4 linked regions of the Homo sapiens genome follow. The protein of the gene in region 4 interacts with the protein of the main gene of each other region in a biochemical or structural test. Each region holds a gene or a part of one and is shown on either strand. Other genes may lie near its edges. The genes, in order: RAD23A, DERL1, RAD23B and NGLY1.

Region 1 (5,317 bases), on a different chromosome or scaffold from region 4:
GAGGGAGTACCCGGGCGTCACTGCCCTGATGGGCGGTTGGGAAGGCAAAACCTGCCCTGAAAAGCCTTTGGGTAGTGATTCTAGCCACTAAAGGCTTCCCACAGGAGGCTGGATGTGAGTGATGGGTGGGCCTCTGGAGGGCAGGGCCGAGGCCTCATCTGTGTCCTGCCAGGGCATGGAGGAGGGTGGCAGCAGGAGGTCTGTGCATTAGAACTAAACAGGACCCCTGACAGGGAATTCCTGGGAGCCCCGAGCCGGAACACGGTTCTGTCCAGGAGAGCCAGGTATCGGAGCAGCCGGCCACGGAAGCAGGTGGGTGTGCACATGCCGCATCTGCCCTCCAGGTACCTGACTCACATTACACTCCACCCCGCAGTGCTCCTAGGAGCCCGGCGTGGTGTCTGACTGCACCCCTTCCTACTACCAGCAGGAGAGAACCCCCTGGAGTTCCTGCGGGACCAGCCCCAGTTCCAGAACATGCGGCAGGTGATTCAGCAGAACCCTGCGCTGCTGCCCGCCCTGCTCCAGCAGCTGGGCCAGGAGAACCCTCAGCTTTTACAGGTGTGGTCCCAAGGGCAGAGGGAGCTAGGGCAGCCACCATTTCCCTTCCCTGTGGGCACCAGAGTCCATAACACGTAGGAATCGTTCTAGGTCCGGAAAGCAGGACTAAGCACATGCTTCCCCCACGCCCCTGTGCTTCCTGTGACCTGGTGACCCCCCTGGTTTCTCAGTCTTCCCAACCACCTTGTAAGGTGTGGGTGCTGTCAACATCACCTCCCACAGAAGAAGACACCGGAAACTTAGAGCAGCCTGTCATTCCCAGGGTCACGCAGCTGGTAGTGTGTGTGTCTGCCTCCTGCCTCGGGGTGGGGTCCTGGGCTGGGGCTCTGGCTTCACATACAGATGGTGCTGCGTAAATGTCTGTAAGGTGGCATGACGTCACCCAGGACAGCTGTGCCCCAGTTGGCTCTGGGACAACTCTGCTCAGTGAGGCTCCATCTTGCCCTTGAAGGTTCACAGGAAGAGTGGGGGAGTGGCCCCCTGGGTGCAAGTAGGTTCCTCTGGGTTCTCGGTGAAGTGCCTACCGGTCTTGGCTCAGGACCCTGCTGTCTGACCCTTCTCCTCTCACTTCTCAGTCCCTTGCCAGCTCCTCCTGGTCGGTCGTGTTCTTCATCTGCACTCAGCCCTCCCTCATAGTGTCCTGGGGCCTTCAGTCTGTATGGGAACCCCCAAATCTATGTAGCCAGCCCAGGCCTCTCTGAATGCCACACTCCATGGCTGGCTTAATTAACTCTCCATCAAAGTGCTCCCTAGACTAGACGTCTAAGACTTAGAACAGACCTCCCCAGTCCTCCCCGATCTCTGCAAGGATTAGCTTGGGGTTGCTTCAGCCCCAGGCCCTGGGGATCTGCTGGGGTCTACCCCTTGTCCTGTCTGCTCTTCCCACTCAGCCCCTCCCTGCACTCCAGCTCTCTGGTAGCCTCTTCCTGGGCCTCTGCCACTGCATAGTCCCACAGTCCACTTTTCAACCATGAGGCAGATGACTAAAAAGCACTTTCTTTTCTTTTTTTTTTTGAGAGGAAATCTCGCTCTGTCGCCCAGGCTGGAGTGCAATGGCGCAATCCCGGCTCACTGCAACCTCCGCCTCCCGGGTTCAAGCGATTCTTTTGCCCCCGCCCGAGTAGCTGGGACTACAGGCGCCCGCCACCACGCCTGACTAATTTTTTGTATTTTTAGTAGAGATGGGATTTCACCCTGTTAGCCAGGATGGTCTCAATCTCCTGACCTAATGATCTGCCCGCCTTGGCCTCCCAAAGTGCTGCAATTACAGGCATGAGCCATCACACCTGGCTGACTGAAAAGCACTTTCTTCTTTAATGTGAAAATGATCAGATGCATACAATGGTAGAGTTATATCAGAGCTTCCAGATACCCAGGTAGGGCACAGTGGCTCATGCCTGTAATCCCAGCACTTTGGGAGGCTAAGGCAGGCAGACCACTTGGTCAGGAGTTTTAGACCAGCCTGGCCAACATGGCAAAAACTCGTCTCTACTATAAATACAAAAAGTAGCTGAGCATGGCGGCAGGCCACTGTAGTCCCAGCTACTCAGGAGGTGGAGGCAGGAGAATCGCTTGAACCCAGGAGGCAGAAATTACAGTGAACCGAGATTGCCCCACTGCACTCCAGCCTGGGTGACAGAGTGAGAGTGTCTCAAAAAGAACAGAAACAAAAATGAACAAATGAACTTCCAGATACCTAAATCCAACACCCAGATGAGTTCACTTTTTTTGGTTTGGGGGCTGGTAGGTGGGAATAGAGACAGGGTCTATGTTGCCCAGGCTGGTTTTGAACTCTTGGGCCCAAGCAGTCCCTCCTGCCTTGCCTCCCAAATTGTTGAGGTTACAGGCGTGAGCCACCACACCCGGCCAAGTTCACCTTTCTAAAAGATCCACAGACCACGTCTTTTCCCATGTAACTGTCACCACCGTGGCTTCCCCCTGCTCTAGAAAATGGGTCTGACTTGGGCCTTCCTCTCTGGTGTCATTGTCTGCCTCCTCCCCCTTCCCTTGTTCGCTGTTTTTTGTTTTTTTTGTTGTTGTTGTTTGTTTGTTTTTGAGATGGAGTTTCGCTCTTGTTGCCCAGGCTGGAGTGCAGTGGCGTGATCTCAGCTCACCGTAACCTCCGCCTCCTGGGTTCAAGAGATTCTCCTGCCTCAGCCCCCAGAGTAGCTGGGATTACAGGCATGTGCCACCACGCCCTGCTAATTTTATATTTTTAGTAGAGATGGGATTTCTCCATGTTGGTCAGGCTGCTCTCAAACTCCTGACCTCAAGTGATCTGCCTGCCTCAGCCTCCCAAAGTACTGGGATTGCAGGCATGAGGCACCGTGCCCAGCCCCATTCACTCTGTTCCTGCTTCTGTTTCTGAGACTTCCCAGATGCATCCACCCTGGGCCTTTGCACTTGCTGTTTGCTTTACCTGGAGGAAACCCTCTGCATCCGCCATACTGCAGGCCTCTCCACCAGCCCTCATCTGCAGTTCCTTCCTAGCCAGACACTTGCAGTTGTCTGGTTCATTTATTGGCTCACTCACTTATTTTTTGAGAGTCTCTTGCCCAGGCTGGAGTGCAGTGGCACAGTCTCGGCTCCCTGCAACCTCTGCCTCCTGTGTTCAAGTGATTCTCCTACCTTAGCCTTCTTGAGTAGATGGGATTACAGGCACGTGCCATCACACCCAGCTAATTTTTGTATTTTAGTAGAGACGGAGTTTCACCATATTGGCCAGGCTGGTCTCGAACTCCAGGCTGGTCTAGAATCACCTGAAGTGATTATAGGTGTGAACCACTGCAGCCAGCCTATTTATGTATTTATTTATTCAAGACAGGGTCTTGCTCTGTTGCCCAGGCTGGAGTTCAGTGGCTTACTGCAGCCTCCGCCTCCTGGGTTCAGTCTTATGCCTCAGCCTGCCAAGTAGCTGGGATTACAGGCGTCTGCCACCACACCTGGCTACTTTTTGTATTCTTAGTAGAGATGGGGGTTCACCATGTTGGCCAGGCTGGACTCGAACTCCTGACCTCAAGTGATCCACCTGCCTCTGCCTCCCAAAGTGCTGGGATTACAGGTGTGAGCCACCGTGCCCGGCTTATTTCTTGGCTCACTTAAAAGCACATCATCAGCTCTTCCAGGGTAGGGCTTGTGTCGACTGCTATGTTGTGTTTGGCCAGAACAGGCTCCTCTGGATATTTGCCTGACTGAATGAAAAAGCAAGGGCTGTGATGACCTGGGGAGAGGAGGGGACCAGGGCTGTGAATTACCTTCCCTTCCCCACCCTCTCCTGCAGCAAATCAGCCGGCACCAGGAGCAGTTCATCCAGATGCTGAACGAGCCCCCTGGGGAGCTGGCGGACATCTCAGATGTGGAGGGGGAGGTGGGCGCCATAGGAGAGGAGGCCCCGCAGATGAACTACATCCAGGTGACGCCGCAGGAGAAAGAAGCTATAGAGAGGGTAAGAGGCCTGGCTGAGGGGTGACTGCAGGTGGGCAGGACCCCTACCCTCTCCTGCTCACACTTAACCTATCTTCCCACAGTTGAAGGCCCTGGGCTTCCCAGAGAGCCTGGTCATCCAGGCCTATTTCGCGTGTGAAAAAAATGAGAACTTGGCTGCCAACTTCCTCCTGAGTCAGAACTTTGATGACGAGTGATGCCAGGAAGCCAGGCCACCGAAGCCCCCACCCTACCCTTATTCCATGAAAGTTTTATAAAAGAAAAAATATATATATATTCATGTTTATTTAAGAAATGGAAAAAAAAATCAAAAATCTTAAAAAAACAAGCAAACAGTCCAGCTTCCTGTCCTCCTAAAGTGGCCCCTGTTCCCATCTCCCGGGCCAGACAGCTGTCCCCCCGTCCTCCTCCCCAGCCCAGCCTGCTCAGAGAAGCTGGCAGGACTGGGAGGCGACAGATGGGCCCCTCTTGGCCTCTGTCCCAGCTCTCTGCAGCCAGACGGAAAGGCGGCTGCTTGCCTCTCCATCCTCCGAAAAACCCCTGAGGACCCCCCCCCATCCTCTTCTAGGATGAGGGGAAGCTGGAGCCCCAACTTTGATCCTCCATTGGAGTGGCCCAAATCTTTCCATCTAGGGCAAGTCCTGAAAGGCCCAAGGCCCCCTCCCCAGTCTGGCCTTGGCCTCCAGCCTGGAGAAGGGCTAACATCAGCTCATTGTCAAGGCCACCCCCACCCCAGAACAGAACCGTGTCTCTGATAAAGGTTTTGAAGTGAATAAAGTTTTAAAAACTAGCCCTATGGTCTGTGCCTGCTGGGGCTCCCCGCGCCCACCTGTCTGGGTCTTGGGGGGCTGGCTGGGCACAGGCAGGCATGGTGACGGGTGCCTGGAAGGGGGAGAGGAGTCTGTGAGTCCCTGCAGATTGAGGCTTCCGGTGTCTCCTCCCCCAGTGTGTCATTTCCAGGCAGTGGACCCCAGCCCAACGTTACAAGGACTGCTTCTCCCCGGCCCCCACCATCATCACCACAGTCTGTTTTGGCTATACTTCCCCCCCCACCAGCCTTGTAATTGGCTAATTACTGGAGATGAATGTTGGTAAACAGAAGCCTTCTTCTCTTCTGCCATCTGCTTCTCCATTATTTGCCCATTGTACACCCCCCTTTTCCTCCCACTGAAGCCCCAGTTAGTCAGCAGGGCCTAGAGTCCCTGTCCCCTTTTGAGTACAGCCAAGTGGGGGATTCCCCAGCTCTTAAGTATTGGGGGAGGAACCAGGGGACCCAGAGAGGCACACCTTGAGAGGACGCAGATCTCTTCAG
Region 2 (7,036 bases), on a different chromosome or scaffold from region 4:
CTACCACAGGCTAAAACAGACCCAGAGAAAGTACAGTCAATTCCACAGCTTCTGAGCCCTGTATCCCAAAGACCAGTGAGGCCCCCCAAGCTCCCTCCCAGCCTGTCAGCCTTTCCTTCTTGGCTCTCGCCATGACCTGATGGCCGCATTCTGGATTACATGCTTGATCCCTGTCCTCCTCCACTAGACCGTTAAGTTCTGTCAGAGGAGGAACCATGCCTGTTTTGTCTCCATTGTGTCTCCTCCAGCATGGCTATGCTGGGAGGTACTTACCATTATTATTAGAAACACACATACACACACACAACCACCTGTACCACACTGGCCTTAGATACTGAAAAAGAAAGTCTCTGTCTTCCAGAGACGTACATTCTACCAAGGGAAAACAATGTGGGGGAAGGAGGGAATAAAGCGTCAGCCAAACCTTTCCATAGCCTCTGACTCAGTCCTCATACTGCATCTGGAAGGGAGAATGGAAAGACCTACGACCTGCTTCTTACAGATGCAGAGTTAAAGTCACATGACCAAAGTCACAGAGCTTGTTAGAACCAGAGTGACATCAAATTACTAGCACAGTGCTCCTGTCACTGCGCCATATGCCTTATTGGGCAGAATAATCAACAACGGCCTCCCGTGTAAGCATAATTCCTAATGCCTTCAGTTAGAAGACTTTAACAGAAGAAAAAAAAAAAAAGAAACAGAAATGACTGTAAGATCACTCTAGCTTGAAAGTTACTTTCCCTCCCCGTTCCACACCCCCTCACAGTTACATGATACAGCTAGTCAATTTAAAAAAAGAAACCCAACAAGTGTCAGTAAGGCAAAAAGATATAATTAAAAGAAAATAGGTTTCCAGCAAAAGTGTCTTCTACTCTCCTTTATTTCTCCCTTGATACCTCAAAGCACACTTCAGCCACAGTGTTAAGCAGGCCTAATGCTAGAGGATCACAATGATGAATCACAGCTGAAATTCTAACACAATTTCCCGATTTTAATAATAGCTGTGCTTCTTTTGATGTGGCTTTGGCTGTCTGATTCCTAAGGAGTCTTTAGACTGAGTACTTAAAATATTGTAATCATATAAATTACAGCACTATATTATCTGACATGCTTGCAACTGAGAATTTACAAATTAACTGGTTTCAAATTACAGTCTTCCAGTTCAAATCAGAAACCTCAAATAAGCCAACTCTGCTATATAACTAACAATTTAGCCAGGCAGGAAAATGTGCAGGTGGCAAACATTTTGTCAAGATGTTAACTTAAAGCTGTGTGGTTGACAGAAAACTGGGGATCAGTGAACCTGGGTTCCAGTCCTAACTGCGTTAACTCAAAGAGCTCTGCAACTTTTGGGACACGTCACCACCACTCTAGATCACTGTTTTCTTATCTATGAAATAAGAGTGTTAAATAGAATGATCTCAAAAGTTCCTCTCTACACGTTCATAGCAGCTATTATTCACAATGGCCAAAAAATGAAACCAAGTCAAATGTCTATCAACTGATGACTGAATAAACAAAATGAGGTATATCCATACGATGGAATCTTAATGGTAATAAAATGGAATGAAGTACTGATACAGGCTATATGGAAGAATCTTGAAAACATTATGCTACGTAAAAGACATAAGTCACAAAAGGCAACAAGATACTGTATGATTTTAAGAAATGCCCAGAACACGCAAATCTAAAGAGTCAATAAGATCAGTGGTTTTGGTCAGGTACAGTGGCTCACGCCTGTAGTACCAGCACTTTGGGAGGCTGAGGTGGGCGAATCACTTGAGGTCAGGAGTTTGAGACCAGCCTGACCAACATGGTGAAAACCTGTCTACTAAAAATACAAAAATTAGCCAGATGTGGTGGTGCGTGCCTGTAGTCCCAGCTACTCAGGAGGCTGAGGCATGAGAATTGCTTGAACTCGAGATGCAGAGGTTGCAAAGAGCCAAGACAGTGCCACTGCACTCCAGCCTGGGCGACAGAGTGAGACCCTGTCTCAAAAAAAAAAAAAAAAAAAAAAAAAATTTAGTGGTCTCCTAAGGGTGTGGGGGAGGAAGGGATTGAATGAAAAGGGAGAATGGCTGCTAATGGTAGGGTTTCTTTTGGGGGTGGTGAAATATTATAAAAATGGGTGTGATAATGACTGTACAACTCTGTCAATATACTAAAAACCAATGAATTGTGTATACTTTAAATGGGTACGTTGTACCGTACATGAATTACATCTCAATAAAGCTGTTAAAAAATGCCTCTCAGCTCAAGCCTTTCAAAATGCTCTGTAGTTGTTGAGTAGGGAATGAGGAGGCAACTTATAAAAATCAAAGCAAATAAAAGAGACCAGTGACCTAATAATCCCACAAATTTGTCCTAAATTGGTATTCAGAGAGAATAACATTACAATTTGTTGTATTACCTGACCAGGTAATAGGGTTGGGTAAAGGGATTCAAAGCACAAGAAGGCAATTAAAAATAAAAGTGGCCATTGGCCAGGTGCAGTGGCTCACGCCTGTAATCCCAGCACTTTGGGAGGCTGAGGCAGGTGGATTACCTAAGGTCAGGAGTTTGAGACCAGCCTGGCCAACATGGCGAAATGCCATCTCTACCAAAAACACAAAAATTAGCCAGATGTGGTGGCATGCACCTGTAATCCCAGCTACTCGGGAGCCTGAGGCACAAGAATCACTTGAACCCAGGAGGCAGAGGTTGCAGTGAGCTGAGATCACGCTACTGCACTCCCCCGACTGGGTGACAGAGTGAAACTGTATCTCAAAAAAAAAAAAAAAAAAAAGTGGCCATGGAATTATTGCAATTTAGGTTTAATAATAGCATTAGAATTATGTTTTAAGTCCTTATAGTTCAGAGTTAAATTCTGAAATATTTACAAATGAAATGCCTGGCATTTTGCTTCAAATAATCAGGGGTGGAGGACAGCAATAGATATAAATAAAACAAGATTGGCTATGAGATAACTATTAGAGGTGATAACCATTAGATGGTTAAGGAGGGGTTCGTACTGACACACACTATGACAGGAATGAACCTTAAAAACATTGTGCAAAGTGAAAGAAGCCAGTCACCAAAGGACATATGAAATGTCCTGAATAGGTAAATCCATATACACGGAAAGTAGATTAGTGGTTGCCAAAGGCTGGGAGGAGGGAAAGTGGGAGGTAAAGAGTGACTGCTTTGGCTTTTTTAGGGAATGATGAAACTGTTCTGGAATTAGATTGTGGTGATGGCTGCATAACATTGTGAATATACTAAAGACCACTGAATTGTACACCTTAAAATGGTTAAAATGATGAATTTTATGTTATGTGAATTTGGTCTCAGTAAAAAGAAAAAAGGTTCATTGACTTTTCCCTCCACTTTTGCATATGTTTGAAAATTTTCCAGAATAAAATTTTAAATAACTGATCATAAATGATCCACACTTAATCTATTTTACTATTGATATAACGTTTACTATCAATATAAAATAATTACTCCAGCTGGGCACAGTGGCTCACGCCTGTAATCCCAGCACTTTGGGAGGTCAAGGTGGGCAAATCTCTTGAGCCCAGGAGTTCAAGACCAGGCTGGGCAACATGGTGAAACCCCATCTCTACAAAAAATACAAAAGTCAGCCAGGTGTGGCGGTTTAACACCCATCCTTGTAGCTACTAGGGAGGCTAAGGTGGGAAGATCACTTGAACCCCGGCAGTCAAGGCTGCAGGGAGCCATGACTGTGCCACTATACTCCAGTCTGGGTGACAGAGCAAGACCCTGTCTCAAAAAAAAAAAAAATTACTCTAACAAATTAATGCTCAATTAAGTTATACCAGAAAGGCAGACTGCTAAGCACTCAGTATCATTATGGGTCCAACTGGAACAAAGGAGAATAAAAATCACATATTCTGGTAGATTTAAAGATCAAACCCCTAATATGGTGGTGAGAGGCCTAGTTGTCAGTTTCATTTCTGCCAAGTTACTTTACTTCCTTGAATCTCCTATTCATCTTTTGGTAAAACTCAGGAAATAAACTAGGTTCCTCCCAATAGTAATATAATAGTCTATGACCTTACACTTTGTATTAATACAATTTCTTTCTTTTTAAAAAGAACCTAAAAGCAAATGCCAATTTAAGGAAAAATGTTACTTGACATCAAATACCCATCCTACTATTTCCCTGCAGTGATGAGACTGATTCGCAATTCTCAACCATATGAGCACTGACTTACATACACTTAAGGGTAGTTCAGAGTTCTCTATCCTGAGGTAACAGCCAGCAAGTTTATAAAGTCTCTGAAGTCAGTCAGCCTTTTCAAAGTCATTTAAATTTAACAAAATTATATCCATATTGTAACACAGTGTATTGATGTATTGTTTCTTTAGTATAAGTGACTCAGACAGCATATAAGGTATTGTAGGAAATAAATGACAATTCAGTAAGACACTTTTACGAAAAGATTTTTCGAACTTATCCATAATATTACATAGGTTGGCTGGGCACGTTGACTCACACCTGTAATCCCAGCACTTTGGGAGGCTGAGGCAGACAGATCACTTGAGGTCAGGAGTTTGAGACCAGCCTGGCCAACAGGGTAAAACCCCATCTCTACTAAAAATATAAAAATTAGCCGGGTATGGTGGCAGGTGTCTGTAATCTCAGCTACTCAGGAGGCTGAGGCATGAGAATTGCTTGAACCCGAGAGGCAGAGGCTACAGTGAACTGAGATGGCACCACTGCACTCCAGCCTGGGCAACGGAGCAAGATTGTCTCAAAAAATAAATAAATAAATAAAATAAAATATTACATTGGTACTCATACCTGATAAACTACCATATATTATTAAATCTTGGCTATATACTGTATTTTAGAGTTGAGTTTTTCAATTAGAGAATAAATCTAGGCTTTTAATTACATAAATTGATGTTTTTCAACCCCAATCTAGGAGACATATATACTCCAGCCCAATTCTGCACTGAAGGACAAGGACTGCTGCAAAAGAAATGAGTGAGACCCTCAAAATAAATGAAAGGCACACAGCTCAGCCACTAAGGAGATGGACAAGCCATGTCAACCTCTGATCTGCTACTTTTTGCATCTATAAAATGGTAACACTGCTACTTATACCTCAGGATGTTGTGAGGATTAAAAATTGAGTAAGCTAAGTGCCTGGTGCAGTCCTGGCACAGTCACTAAGCATTTACTATCTTTATGCAGTTTCTTTTTGTAATGCTAACTGCCCTCCAAATTCCTCCAAAGTAAACACATGGATTAGTAAATGAGAAAGAAACAATGCTTAAAACAACTATGGGTAACATACCTGTTTCAAGTCGCGTAGAATACTGATATAAGAAATATAAATTGACCAAATAAAGAAATCCAGTTCCTGGACCCACAGGGAAATAAAAGGTGGCAGTGATTGGCCTCCAAATCTGTCCAGATCAAAATAAACACAGCTGTTAGTTTCTGTAAGCCTGGTTATTTCTTTCCCTTCTAACTAAACAAAATTAACAAAGCATCCTCCTCAATGAGAGGTGTGAAAGTGATCCTACCAACACAACTCAAGAAAACAACTGAAGAAAAGTGTTCACACCAAATACAATCACATCACTTTGCAAATCAATGGAATAAAACGACATCATAAAATAAGCAACAAATATTTCTAAACAAGTTGAAACAAAATCAATACTATATGAGTATATGGTTAGTCTTTGCTGAGATCAGGCATACAATTAAGCCTACATCAAAAAATGAATTACAAAGGCTTAATTTCCAACAGTACAGTAATGCCTCTATTTAGGGAAAGAATATTCTGGAATGACAAACCTTGTCCAAAAATGCCACATTCAAAGGCAGAAGTAAAACAACAATTTTTTATTCAAACCAATGCACTAAATAGGCAATAGGGGCACTTTTTCTTTAAAAACATTTCCCTGAAAAAACAAACAAAACATAAGAAGGGTCTAAAGTAACAAGCAGGCCAGGTTCGGTGGCTCATGCCTGTAATCCCAGCACTTTAGGAAGCTGAGGCAGGCAGATCACCTGAGGTCAAAAGTTCAAGACCAGCCAGGCCAACATGGTGAAACCCTGTCTCCAATAAAATTACAAAAATTAGCCAGGTGAGGTGGCGGGGGCCTGTAATCTCAGCTACTCGGGAGGCTGAGGCAGGAGAATCGCTTGAACCCAGGAGGCGGAGGTTGCAGTAAGCCAAGATCGCGCCACTACACTCCAGCCTGGGTGACGAGCGAAACTCCGTCTCAAAAAATTAAATTTAATTTAATTAAAATAAATTAAATAATAAAGTAACAAGTAAGCCTCATTCCCAACCTCCAGTCTCCCAGTTCCCCAACAACAGCTGATCAGTGTCTTGTATTTCCTCTAAGAAATACATGTTACTATTACTCATTCTTCTTTATCCTACTCTATACGGCACTGTTTTATACCTTGGTTCATTCCCTACAAAATATTTTAATTGGCTTCATAGTATTCCTTGTATGTGAATGTCTAAACTTTTGTTTAAACTGTTACAATGCCACAATGAATATTCTTGTATATCCTCTTTATATGTGCATATACAGAATAAGTTCCTGTCAATAAATCTGCTAGAGCAACAGACATAACCATTTATTTTGGTAGATACTGCCAAATGCCTACAAAAATGTTTGCTCAATTTATACTTCCTCCTAAAAAGTAGATGAATCCTGTCTTCTCTCCATACTCTCACCATTTCATGTATTATATATTCACCAATCTGAAAACTAATTTTTATTTGCATTATGAGAAGTCAAGCACCTTTTCACGTTTTAAAAACCTGAGCATTTCCTTTATTCATTTGTTTTTCTGGATTTACATTTTTTTTTTCCCCCCCGAGATAGGATCTTGCTCTGATGCCCAGGCTGGAGTGCAGTGGCATGATCCTAGCTCACTACAACCTCCACCTCCTGGACTCAGGTGATTCTCCCACCTCAGCCTCCCAAGTAGCTGGGACTACCAGCATGCACCACCACACCTGGCTAATTTTTATATTTTTTGTAGATACAGGGTCTCCTG
Region 3 (4,447 bases), on a different chromosome or scaffold from region 4:
TTAAAAATGTAAAGATCACTCTTAGTTCATGGACCACATAACAGGTATATGCCAGATTTGGCTCATGAAGCTGTAGTTTGCCAGCCCTTGGCTTAGGGGGAAAAAATGGGGAAAATGGATGGGGGAGGCCAACTGAACTTCATGGCTGGAGAATCCACCAGAACTGACTGGGTCAGGAACACTCATTCCCTCCAATTGCTTACTTTCGGTAGAACATTTTGCAGCAGGCTTTGGCTGGCTGCTTCAGACAAGTATGGAACAATGGAAATTTTATGCATTCCCTAGAAGACCTCACTAACCTTAACATCCCAGCAAGTATCCCATCTCTGTGTTGAGAAAAGAACCAGGAGACCCAATAAAGTCAATCTAGTGCCTGGGCCTCCTATATGATACACTCACCAATTACTGAAGTAAAAAGAAGTATCAGTGACAGAAGCATTGTCAACTTTCAATTCTGATTCTACGTGACAGAATCATTTAAAAAATGAGAAGTGCAATGTTGGATGTATTGAAAATATTTTATAATCAATTCTCTAGAATCCTAGCCATCCAGTACAGGAAAAAATTATATTGGAACACTTCCGTATTTTTAAACAATGAAAAAAAATTTGACTAGAGGATGGCATAAGAAATTTACAAATACAAACTTAGGCTTCCTCACATTTCCCACAGAGCAACTAAACGAGAAAAAGATTTCAAGAAATGACAGTATACCTCGAATGCAAAATTCCAAAGTCAAATAGCTACTTACATTAAGAGATTTACCAAAACAGTTTGTAAATTAAACATTAACAGCAAAAGGCACAAAAAGCCTATTTCTTTTATGGTGTCTCGGCTGATTCTTTAAGAAGCAGATAAACAAGGTACTGTATGGAACGATCAAAACTTGGCCTGAGCTGTCTTCTGATAATTAATCCTAGTATATCCAGATTTGTTGTCCAAGGACACAAGCTCCATGCCACCTTCTGCTGTCACTTTCCAAGAAGAGGCTGTTTTTTTTTTTTGTTTCCAGTTTTCACTATGATCTGAGTAGACAGAGAATGTCATAAAATAAATGAGAGTATTCCATTATCCGATCAGAAATGCCACCTCTTTTCCCAACTCATTGCTCTGACTTGAAAGATGAACGTATATATGAATTCTCATTTTATTCTCCTGAGAAATTATGCATGATCCATTATAAAACATACAGGTAATACAAAGTCCAAAAGCCTGTCATGTTTATGGCAGTGGTGTGATCTCAGCTCACGGCAACCTTCACTTCCCGGGTTCAAGCAATTCTCATGCCTCAGCCTCCCAAGTAGCTGGGACCACAGGCGTGCGCCACCATGCCTGGCTATTTTTTGTATTTTTAGTATAGACGGGGTTTCGCCATGACGGTCAGGCTGGTCTCAATCTCCTGGCCTCAAGTGATCTGCCCACCTCGGCCTCCCAAAGTGCTGGGATTATAGGCATGAGCCACCATACCCAGCCAGTTTCATTTATTTTCATAATAGGTTATGAGTACGTGATGTAAATGCTTAAAAGTCATCATCACCATACTGTGCTAAAGATATTGAGAAATTATGCAGAGAAATCTGTGCAAATTCATCTTCTTAGTATCAGATGGTTAAAAAAAAGGAAACAAAAAACAAAAGCAATCCAAATTATTTCTTTAAATACTCTTATTTATACTCAGGAAAACAGATTTGAAAAACTGAACAAGTAGACATCTGCCCCGTTTATGATTAAATAACAATGCCAATGAAGGAGATTCCACAGAAAAAACTGAGATGAAAAAATCCAAATAAAAGCCAACACTGCTATTAAGATTTTTCTTTTAATATGCCATGAGATATCTTGATTGTATATTTTCCAAAGTACTTTCCAGCCACATCTCCCAACCCATCCAAAAGACTTTGCCAGTCTTTCCAATGCAATAAAAGATGCTGGATTATAGTTTTGTCTACCATTTCTTTTTGAAAGCAATATTATACTAATGACTTTAATGGTAATACACTCTTATCTAATAAAGAAACACATTTACAAATATCAGAAACCCAGTTTTGAAACATTTGCATTAATTTTGAACTGAATCAGCATTTTGTGGGTTTTTTAAAAGGCAGCAGTTTGACTCACGACTTGCTGATAAACACGTTTCTGCTGAGGGAAGGGGAAAAGACAGGGAGAGTGAATGCTGCATTTCTCCATTGGCCCCAAAAGTGCTAATTTCACAAAGGGATACATCAAAAGCAAACATGCAATGGTTGTTTTAAAACTTTTACTGCAATATAACAATGAAGTAAACAGTAATTAGACACCTACCAATTTTTTCCCCAAAACAAAAAAAAAATGTAAACAGGAAAATAACTCTGCCTATACTTGTACAGCTTCTCAAATCATGTTAGAAGGGTCTCACATTCAATGATCAAGAAATTTTAAAATAGCAGTAATTATTTTCATTTTAAGAAAAGGTTCCCTTTCTCCCCTCCCACCCCAAGTATTTAACATGAAAGAATGGGCTTCCTTACATATTAATTTTATACTTATTTTTGAAGCAGCAACAATTAACCATCAATTTGGCATTTCTGTTTACAGTCGCTACAAAAATTTTTTAAATTTCACAAAGCCATTATCCAGTGTTGCCATGAAACAGAGACTGTAAATTCTAGGTAGCTAAGATTCTTTCTGAAACCAATGTTAAGTCAAAGAAATATAAAGCAGGGCATTACACTAAGTTTCTGGATCTAGTACACTAAAAAGAGTGAAACCTAGGAAAAGTTACCTACTGTTTTACAGAAGAAATAAAGACCTGCAAAAGCTGATTTTTGGTTGTATATATTTTACACACTGTGTGGAGTTGCGGCATCTGCTAATTGAAGCAGACATGCACTGTATTTATCCCTGCCCTGTATCCTAGATCCCTCCCTCCCCACCCCCAACAATCTACTACCTTATACCAAGTATTGTGGATATGAGCCCAAGTCATCCCAGACAATCCAGTGAACAAGTTAGTGTAATGCACTGGTGTGAAGTGTGAGATATAAAAAAGTCCCTTTCAATCTTCATCAAAGTTCTGCTGTAGAAGAAAATTGGCAGCCAAATTCTCATTCTTCTCACAAGCAAAATACGCTTGTATCACAAGTCCTTCAGGAAATCCTAATGCCTTTAACTGGAAGAAAAAGGAAAAAAATATAAATCCAACACACCAATTATGGCACATTTAATTTTATTTACATATTATAGATTCCAGCATAGCACTAAAGATAAATCATTACTCAAAAACATACTGCAACCCAAAAAAGCTCTTGAGAATTTTACATGAATTCATCTCTATCAATATGGATTTACTGCCCAACCCAAGGGATTAGATGGAATCTAGACCCTTTCCTTTACTAATCACCTAAAAAAGTCTTTGTTTCTAGTTAAAGCTTAATAGATACTATGCAAATACTCTTTGGCCTAATTAAAAATTAGCTGCTAACTGCTATGGTTTAAAAATAAATGACTCTACAGAAATATGTAAATCAAATGGCTTTTAGTATATTAAGAGTGAAGATAAGGATGAGAGTACCTGCAGTATAGTTTAACCACCTCACCTATTTCTAAATTAAAAGCAAATTATGTTTTATTTATTAATGTCAACTCATGTCTTTCATTTGGATCAAACATCACTCTCAATCTCCTTGCTTTATTCAACACTCCATACTAGAAAAACAGGTGACCAATTATTAGTAATACATGGTACATTTTGAAGATAATGTTCTATTTTTATCTGCTTAACAGTTACAGCATTTTAAATGGTAATACCAGCTACTTAATTTCATTTTCCTAGTCTATTATATTAAAAATCACTTGTGACAATACTCACTCCTTTTAAAAGCCTTTAAAAACTCAGCCAAATGTCACCCTCCTCAATTGTCTCAATCACCTTGAGTTAGATCACAGGTCCCAAACCCCAAGACCGTGAACTGGCACCAGCCATTGGCCTGTTAGGAACTGGGCTGCCCAGGAGCAGGTGAGCAGTGGGTGAGCAAGGAACTGGGCCGCACGGGAGGAGGTGAGCAGTGGGCGAACAAGTGAAGCTTCATCTGTATTTACAGCCACTCCCCATCACTCGAATTACCACCTGAGCTCCGTCTCCTGTTGTATCAGTGGCGGCATTAGATTCTCATATGAGCATGAACCCTACTGTGAACTGTGCATGAGAGGGATCTAGGGTCTGTGCTCCGTATGATAGCCTAACAAATGCCTGATGATGTGAGATGAAACAGTTTCATCCCAAAACCACCGCCCCACCCCACTTCCTAACCTAACTAACGCCTGATGATCGGAGGTGGAACAGTTTCATCCCAAAATCACTGCGCCCACCCCACCTATGTTGGTAGAAAAAAAGGTCTTCTACGTAACTGGTCCCTGGTGCCAAAAAGGTTAAAGACTGCTGTGTCAGATTATATTTGGAAATAAC
Region 4 (7,945 bases):
GCTCTGCTTATCCTACCCTCCTATTAAGACTTCCTAGGTTTGCCTTAAATTCTTTGTAATCTGATTCAAAACTATCTTTCCAATTATGGCTCCCATTCTCTATTAAATGAGCTTGCCACCCAGCAAACTGATTTTCTCACTATACATGTCTTGATTGACCCTAACTTTTCTCATCTCTGTGCTTTTGCTATTTTCAACAACCACTCATTTTCTTCCTATCAATGCTTGAAGTTTGAATGCAAAAATGAGTAGAGGTATGGCTCTTGCTTTCAAGAAGTTTATGGTCTAGTAAAGGGAGACACCCATAGAAACAAGTAAGTGCAAACTGTTGAAACAGGTGCTATAGTGGAATTATTATAACACAAAAGGGACAATGAGGTCTGTGCTACCTCGTAAAGTCAGAAAAGGCTTCAGAGAAATGATCCTTGAACTGCATCTTGGAAATGAATGTTTGTCTAGTAAATTGGGTGGGAAAGGGCATCCTGGCAGGAGGAGAACAAAGGCCTGGAGAAATGAAGTGTCATGGTATCTTCCACAAACAGCTAAATATGTGGCCCATGTCAAATTTGAAGTGTGGGACAAAGCAACAGTAAACGCATGAGAGTAAGGCAGGGCCCAGATCACAAAAGCCTGGGGTATCATACTGAGGACTTTGGATTTAATCCCGTAGTTCAGAGACCATATGCTAGCCTTCATGGTATAATTTGGAGTGCAACATTCTTTTATTGATTCTAAACTCCTCTAGAAAGGACATGGTAAACTCTCTCATTCCCTTCACTGGAGTCTCTCTTACTCCTCTTTGTCTTGAACAAAGCCACTTAAAATATTTAACTTACCAGCCTGGTTCCTGACACCATTTGACTTTAGAATGTGGATAGAGGGAGCCATAGAAAACTTTTTACCAGGAGAACAACATGATCAGATGGGTGCTTTAGAAAGATCACTATTGCACAAATGAGCAGGGTGGGTTGGAAGGATGTGGAAATGGACACAGGGAAGAAAGTTAAGAATGGATGAAACACGAGGCTCTGAAGGCAATGGCAAGGAGAGATCCAGGAGATGTTGAGAAGGAAACGTTACTAGGATATTGTACATGATTTAAGGAGGGTGGGGAGTCTCTCACAGGTAGCAAGTCCTCTCCTTTCTCACCTTCTCAACCTCTCAATTTAAGGCTTCTGTTCAAGTTGTCCCCCCTCACTGAAACTGCAGCCCACAGTGAAATTTTCCTCCCTCTAAACTAGTAGTTCTCAAAGTTTACTGTTAATCAAAATCACCTGAAGGGCTTGTTACCACACAGATTGCTGGGTCCCACCTTTAAATGTGGAGCTTCAGAATTTGTTTTTCTGACAAGTTTCCTGCTGATGCTGCTGTTGCTTGTCCAACCACTGCTCTAAACTTATGACTTCTATGAAAGTAGGGACCATACTTGTCTCCTTCACAGTGCTGAGCAACTAGTAGTCACTTCATAAATACATGATGAATGAATGAATTATGGAATGAATAAATCAACATTTATCCTTACATTTGATAGTACACATGCACTTTTTGTGCATTTCTCACCAAATGACTTTTGCGAAAACCAATGCCATAGCATTAATATTGTGATAACAATGTACAGTCCATAAAATCATGGAAATCACCATTTTAAAAAAATCATCTGAAATTTAAGTCCTTCCAAATAACTCTTTAGCAACACTTCTGTTAAAGTTCTTGAGTAACTGTAATCTCTTTTGAATATTGCCATTTATAAAGCTATTAAGGGAATCCATTATATAAAGGGACTTGGTCTCTCATTTTCCTGGCTGCTTCCCCCACTTCAGTCAAGTTGGAGATATTCTAATTCTTCCATTTCCTTTAGAAAAGCTGAATAAGCTACCCTAACTTTTATACCCATCGTTGTTTCAAACAACCAAAGAATGGGTACTAAATCAGCATTGAAATTCTTGTTCTTTTATTTATTTATTTTTGTTCCAAAATAAAGATTTTTTTTTTCCCCAGGATTTCACCTTTATTAAAAACATCATTTTTAGAGTTGACATATCATGGCGCTATTCTTTTTTTTTTTTGAGGTAGAGTCCCGCTCTGTCACCCAGGCTGGAGTGCAGTAGGGCAACCTCAGCTCACTGCAACCTCTGCCTCCTGGGTTCAAGCGATTCTCCTGCCTCTCAGCCTCCCAAGTAGCTGGGACTCCAGGTGTGCACTAACACGCCTGGCTAACACTATTCTTTAATAAAACAAAAAAGAAAGAACTCTGTAAATTTTCCCCACGATTGGTTTGGTGATATTAAAAAGTTAACCTCCATAAAAACCATTAGCAAGGGGAGGAGTTGAAGTCTTTCAGGAATTTGTATAGTGATTCACTATTGTGTGACTACATTGAGTGATTAACCAACAACTCTATTCAGTACCTGCTGTGTGCAAAGCAGTCTGAGACAGATGGCACAAGAGACTTTTAATCAAATAGGGAAGACAAAACTAATGATAACTTACAGTGAGATAGCGTTTTAGTTGAGGAAACAAACTATTATGAAGAGAAAAACAAAAGTCATTTTGTTCCCCCACAAAAGTACCCTATGACCATTCTATCTGTCAGGGGAAAGCCTTAGCTGACAGCTTTCTGCCCTTCACTTGACACCTCTGCTTCAATACCAGAGCATTTCCACTTTGGTGTTTTGTATATAGACAATCTTCCTATGTTTTTGTTTTTGTTTTTTTTTTGTAGAGATGGGGTCTTGCCATGTTGCCCAGGCTGGTCTTGAACTCCTGGGCTCAAGCGATCCACCTACCTCGGCCTCCCAAAGTATTGGGATTACAGGCGTGAGCCACCATGTCCAGCCCCTAAAATTTTATTTGAAAAAAAAAAAAAAGTTCTGTTGCATTTTTAAAAGTTACAAGTACTGTATAATATATACTATTCTCATATAATTAGTAAAGGATAAATAAATGTATCAATGGAAAAAGAAACCCAAATTAAGAGGAATAAAGTTTGTGATAGCTATATCTCCAGACCCAAGCCCCCAATCCATTGTGTAGTTGGACGAGACTACATTTCCCAGACTCTCCCCTTTTATCTTTTTATGTGTTTTTAAATTTTTTTTTTATTTTTTGTAAATCTGGCCTTACTGAAATACCCCCTTTTATCTTGATGAGGCCTCATTCTTAGTAATGATATGGTAGAGAAAATGCTGTGTGTCATTTCTGGGCTCATGTGGTTAAAAGTAGGTGTGACTTTTTTTTTTTTTTTTTTTTTTTTGTCCAAGCAGGCTGCCTGGATTTGTAAATAAAATTTCACTAGAACATAACCATGCCCATTTATTTTCAAGTATTGTCTGTGGAGCAACAGCTGCAGAGGCAGAGTTAAATAGTTGAGACAGACCTTATGGCTCACAAAGCCTAAAACACTATGTGGCCCTTTACAGAAAATGTTTCTTGACCCCTGTTCTAAGGTATGGAAGGAGACTGGGTCCACTGACATTATGACACCTGCATTATTAAAGTGTTATATGAGCCAGAAAGAAATTACTCTTGTGTTAAGCCCCTGAAAATTTTAGTTACAGACGGTAGTAACATACTACTATCTGTTGAACACACCATACTTGGAAGGTGGTCCAAAGATTTACATATTTATTAAAAGCGTACGTATATTTGGGAGACGAATAGTCATTGAACTGGATGTCATAGCTTAGGGTCTTGTTCGGAGATTCTGGAAGAAAATTTCAATTCTTAAAAGTAAACAGATGAAACATCAAGAAATTTAAAAGAGGTTATTCAGGCAAATCACTTATCTTAAGAAATAAAGTCAAGAAAAATACTTCGTGAGGTTGAAAAGGAATTTCTGCAAAGAAGGAAGCCACTGGTAAAGTACACTTTCAAGAACATGGTGGGGAAGAGACTGGATTAAAGTAGTAAGGGATGCATCTTCTAAGAGGAATAAAAGACCTTGATCACATGATCTACCTAAAAAACAAGTCACAAAATATTACTTACCCTTACTGTGTGGGATGCAAATTTTTATTCCCTTCCCGCCCCCGACATTCTATAATATTGCGTAATTATTATGCATGTGTTTTACGCTGGTCACCACGCGGTAAACCGAATCCACAACCCATTATTATGTCGCAACCTATGGTTTAAAAATACACTTCCTTACAGAGGAATCATATACTAGTTGAGCTGGAACTTAGATTTTCAGTCATTAGCCAAATTCTGAAAAGAATCCATATAACAAACCCAGCAGAGTTTATAGCCATGGTTTTGTTTTTGACGTTTGTTGCTCCTTCCTTCTGTAGTCTTTCATCCACATCTATGTAGAACGTCCTGACAATCTGCGAAGAGAAGGCTCTAAGGTGGTTTTATTTGTGGGGAAAGGAGGGAGGTACATGCGGTTTCTCCACCTTAATAGCTGGATCAATTAGGCTGGCCCCGGAGCGCAAAGGGATCCGGGTTTCTGAGAGGCACGTGCCAGCACCATTCGCCCGATACCTCTAGACCAAAGCCGGCCTCCCCTCCAGCCGAGCTCCTCCGTCCTAAAGGACTCGACATCCCCCTCCTCCAGGCCCACACCCCTCAGCCCCGGAGCCCAGGCCCCGCCTCTCCCTGCGGAACCCCTTCCCAACCTGTACGACCAGGCCCCAACTCTGGGTCGAAGCACCTCGCCCCTGCCGGCCGAGGCCCCCCACCTTCTTCCGAACAGCCCCTTGCCCCCCGCGAAGGGGCAGCCGTAGCTCCCAGCCGAGCTCCCCCGCTCCTGGCCCCGGTCCCCGACCCCGCCCCAGGCCCCCGACCCCGCCCCTGCCGGCCGAAGACCCCGCCCCTGCCGGCCGAGGACCCCGCCCCTGCCGGCCGAGGACCCCGCCCCTGCCGGCCGAGGACCCCGCCCCTGCCGGCCGAGGACCCCGCCCCTGCCGGTGGCTGCGGTAGCTGCTGCGCGCTGAGGCGCCTGCTCAGTGTGGGACGCGGAGAGCGAGGGGCGGCGGCGGCGCCCGCTGGCGCTCAAGCATGGCGGCGGCGGCATTGGGCAGCTCCTCAGGCTCGGCGTCCCCGGCCGTGGCTGAGCTCTGCCAGAACACCCCGGAGACCTTTTTGGAGGCCTCCAAGCTGCTGCTCACCTATGCTGACAACATCCTCAGGTGCAGGGCAACGGGGTCGGACGGCGGGTACCGGGGTGGGTGGGCCGCGGCACCTTGTTCGGCCAGGGACTGGGGCGTCCGGCCTGAGCTTCAGAGGGCAGCGACGCCCGGACAGACCGGGACCTGGAGCTGGTTCTGCTCCTAACGTCCGAGCCCGCCGGCCAGGGGCCTCGGGACCCGGCCAAGTCCCACCCCCGCTCGAGAAAAGGAAGTTTCTTTGCAGTTGTGACTTGGCACCTGCAGTCAGGGTGCTGCGGGTGAACTGGAGTCCCGGAAGCGGGGCCGGGCGGAGGAGAGGTAGGAAGGCGTGCTTCAGACACTGCCGCTCTTCTCGTCGTTTAACGGCCTCAGATATCGGGACACAACGGTAACCGCACCGCGCGTGTCATTCCCCCTGCGTGCATTTTTCGAGCGGAGTGGCTTACATTTCCACATACTTATCAGAAGTTACTCACTGACAAAGTGATGTTTTCTTCCCATGTTGAGACTATCCGAGTACTAAAGCATAATGCTTCTGAAGTGGTGGGTTTTAAAATTTTTAATTTTTTTTCTGCCCACTTTTGTTGATTGAAACATTATAGTATTTTGAAGTTACAGTTTTTATATTAATACCTGGATTCTACTATGTAACATAACCCTTTAAGAATTCGTGGAGGTAATCGCCTTGGATGAGAGTAATTTCCTTCATTCTCCTGTCAGCAAAATTGCACTTCTAGAGGTCTAAGGGACCTTGCAGATTTTGGGAATTGGGAGGCAAGTTTGATTATTCATTTTGAATAAGTACCCACCTCAACTCTTCAGATCAAATGATCTGAAGGGACATGGTGTGGGGGGGTAGGGAAATGGAACTGAGGTTAAAGGAGAGCCACTTGCTTTAGGGGTGTTACCTCATTTATCAGGTCACCGTGATTAATTAGGTTCTCTGTTCCCCTCAGCCCCTGGTGCATTAAGTGTTTGGTATATTGTCATGAAGTCTAAAAGGAAATTCTCAGTTTCAAGGTTATAGGTTTCACGTGACCCAATTTTAGACATTAGTTACATGTGCAGTTTTTAAAATCCATGTCAGTAATATTTCATTTAGGCAATGGTAATGATTTTTAAAGTAAATTGAAGGGAAAATATATTGAGCCCTTATTTTGTGGCAGATGCTATGAAAGATGCAACATGTGGCCTGTTCACAGCTACATAATTGTGACCTGTGTGGGGACCACCTTCGTGCTCTGTGACACCTTCTCAACTCACCTTTTTTACTCTTTGAGGCCTTACAGCTCTTCACAGTACAAGGATGCCAAGGGACTCCATAAATGAACTGATAGGCTGGGTTCTCCAGAGCCCATTAGCTGAGACTTACCACCTGGAAAGCCACCAGGCTATTTAAAACCCCACTAGTCAGAAAAGAGAGGTGGCCTTGTAATGAAGCCTCACTTCTGCTTTAAATCTAGTGAAACCCAAAATGCTGAGGTTTAGTATGAGGGGGAAACCTTTGCATGCAAATAATGACATTTAGCATCATAATCTTCATTATGAATGTTTACTAATGGCTCGTTGCTGATTTTCGTTTTTGAGACGGAGTTTGCTCTTGTTGATGAGGCTGGAGTGCAGTGGCGCGATCTTGACTCACTGCAACCTCCGCCTCACAGCTTCAAGATTCTGAAAGATGAGGGGTGTGACAATGAGCGCAAAGGATAGTGGACACACTGGAATAATGCTGAGAAATTAAGAGTTTAAGAAAGTCTTTGTGCGTTGCTTTTCCAAGGATAGGAAAGAGGATATGATGGGTTTGAAGTCTAATGTCCCTACAGCCCTCTAAGTCTTTGAGGGCTTTAGGGTCAGGCCTTTGGTATCAGTCTATACACAAAACCACGGTCAGTTTACTCAACATACTTAATAAGAAAAAGAATTTGAGGAACTGGATGTGACTGTCATTGCTGGAGCCTGTTTGCAGTATACTTTTACTGAGAAAAATAGATTAATGTGAGGTCCAGAGATGATATAAAAATAAAATTGCTCACTGGGCACGGTGGCTCACACCTGTAACCCCAGCACTGTGGGAGGCCAAGGTGGGCGGATTGCTTGAGCTTAGGAGTTTGAGACCAGCCTGGGCAACATGGCTAAACCCCGTCTCTACAAAAAAATTAAAAAATTAGCCAAGCGTGGTGGCAGACACCTGTAGTCCCAGCTACTTGGAGGGCAGAGGTGGGAGGATGGCTTGAGCCCATAATCATGCCACTGCATTCTAGCTTTGATGGCGAAGTGAGACCTTTCTCAAAAAAGAAAAAAAAAATGCTCACTAGAAACTAAAGAGGAAAATCTATATTGTATATCAATAGTTAAATGGTAACAACATATATCAAAATAACAAAGGCCAGTCGAAGTGGCTCCAACCTGTAGTACCAGGGCTTTAGGACACCCCAGGTAGAAGGATTGCAGCCGGGGCAACACAGTGAGACCCCATCTCTTAATAAAAAAAAAAAATAGCCAGGCGTGGTGGCTCACCTGTAGTCCTAGCTACTTCAGAGGCTGAGGCAGAGGATTGTTGAGCCCAGGAGTTCTAAGCAGCAATGAGCTTTGATGGCGTCATTGCACTCTAGCCGGGGTGACAGAGCAACACTTTGTTTTTTAAAAAACAAAACAAAAACTATATGAGAACTGATGTGTATTTTATAAGAATTTTTAAACAATTGTGAAAGCAGGAAGAAACTAGAAAATTAGCCCAGAGAAAGACCCAGCATGTAGAGATCTGAAAGCTGTGAGGAAAAGAATAGATTAAAATAGCTCAAGCAGTTTTGAACCAGTAGGATATATCATCCTGGTGG

The links.
Region 1: the proteins of NGLY1 (region 4) and RAD23A are reported together in a solved structure, tested with the Homo sapiens proteins (one study listed by BioGRID).
Region 2: the proteins of NGLY1 (region 4) and DERL1 form a complex in vitro, tested with the Homo sapiens proteins (one study listed by BioGRID).
Region 3: the proteins of NGLY1 (region 4) and RAD23B are reported together in a solved structure, tested with the Homo sapiens proteins (one study listed by BioGRID).

What each region holds. Positions count from the first base shown.
Region 1 is NC_000019.10:12,948,848-12,954,164, forward strand, and holds the end of RAD23A (UV excision repair protein RAD23 homolog A), read left to right. Parts: intron 1-233; coding exon 234-312; intron 313-427; coding exon 428-561; intron 562-3,841; coding exon 3,842-4,006; intron 4,007-4,088; coding exon 4,089-4,202; 3' UTR 4,203-4,795; downstream 4,796-5,317. UniProt on the Homo sapiens protein: Multiubiquitin chain receptor involved in modulation of proteasomal degradation. Binds to 'Lys-48'-linked polyubiquitin chains in a length-dependent manner and with a lower affinity to 'Lys-63'-linked polyubiquitin chains.
Region 2 is NC_000008.11:123,025,299-123,032,334, forward strand, and holds part of DERL1 (derlin-1), read right to left. Parts: intron 5,459-7,036; exon of another isoform or gene 5,419-5,458; coding exon 5,307-5,418; exon of another isoform or gene 4,932-5,306; intron 475-4,931; exon of another isoform or gene 425-474; intron 1-424. UniProt on the Homo sapiens protein: Functional component of endoplasmic reticulum-associated degradation (ERAD) for misfolded lumenal proteins. Forms homotetramers which encircle a large channel traversing the endoplasmic reticulum (ER) membrane.
Region 3 is NC_000009.12:107,328,247-107,332,693, reverse strand, and holds the end of RAD23B (UV excision repair protein RAD23 homolog B), read right to left. Parts: intron 3,152-4,447; coding exon 3,038-3,151; 3' UTR 505-3,037; downstream 1-504. UniProt on the Homo sapiens protein: Multiubiquitin chain receptor involved in modulation of proteasomal degradation. Binds to polyubiquitin chains.
Region 4 is NC_000003.12:25,780,444-25,788,388, reverse strand, and holds the start of NGLY1 (peptide-N(4)-(N-acetyl-beta-glucosaminyl)asparagine amidase), read left to right. Parts: upstream 1-4,945; 5' UTR 4,946-4,998; coding exon 4,999-5,129; intron 5,130-5,516; exon of another isoform or gene 5,517-5,651; intron 5,652-7,945. UniProt on the Homo sapiens protein: Specifically deglycosylates the denatured form of N-linked glycoproteins in the cytoplasm and assists their proteasome-mediated degradation. Cleaves the beta-aspartyl-glucosamine (GlcNAc) of the glycan and the amide side chain of Asn, converting Asn to Asp.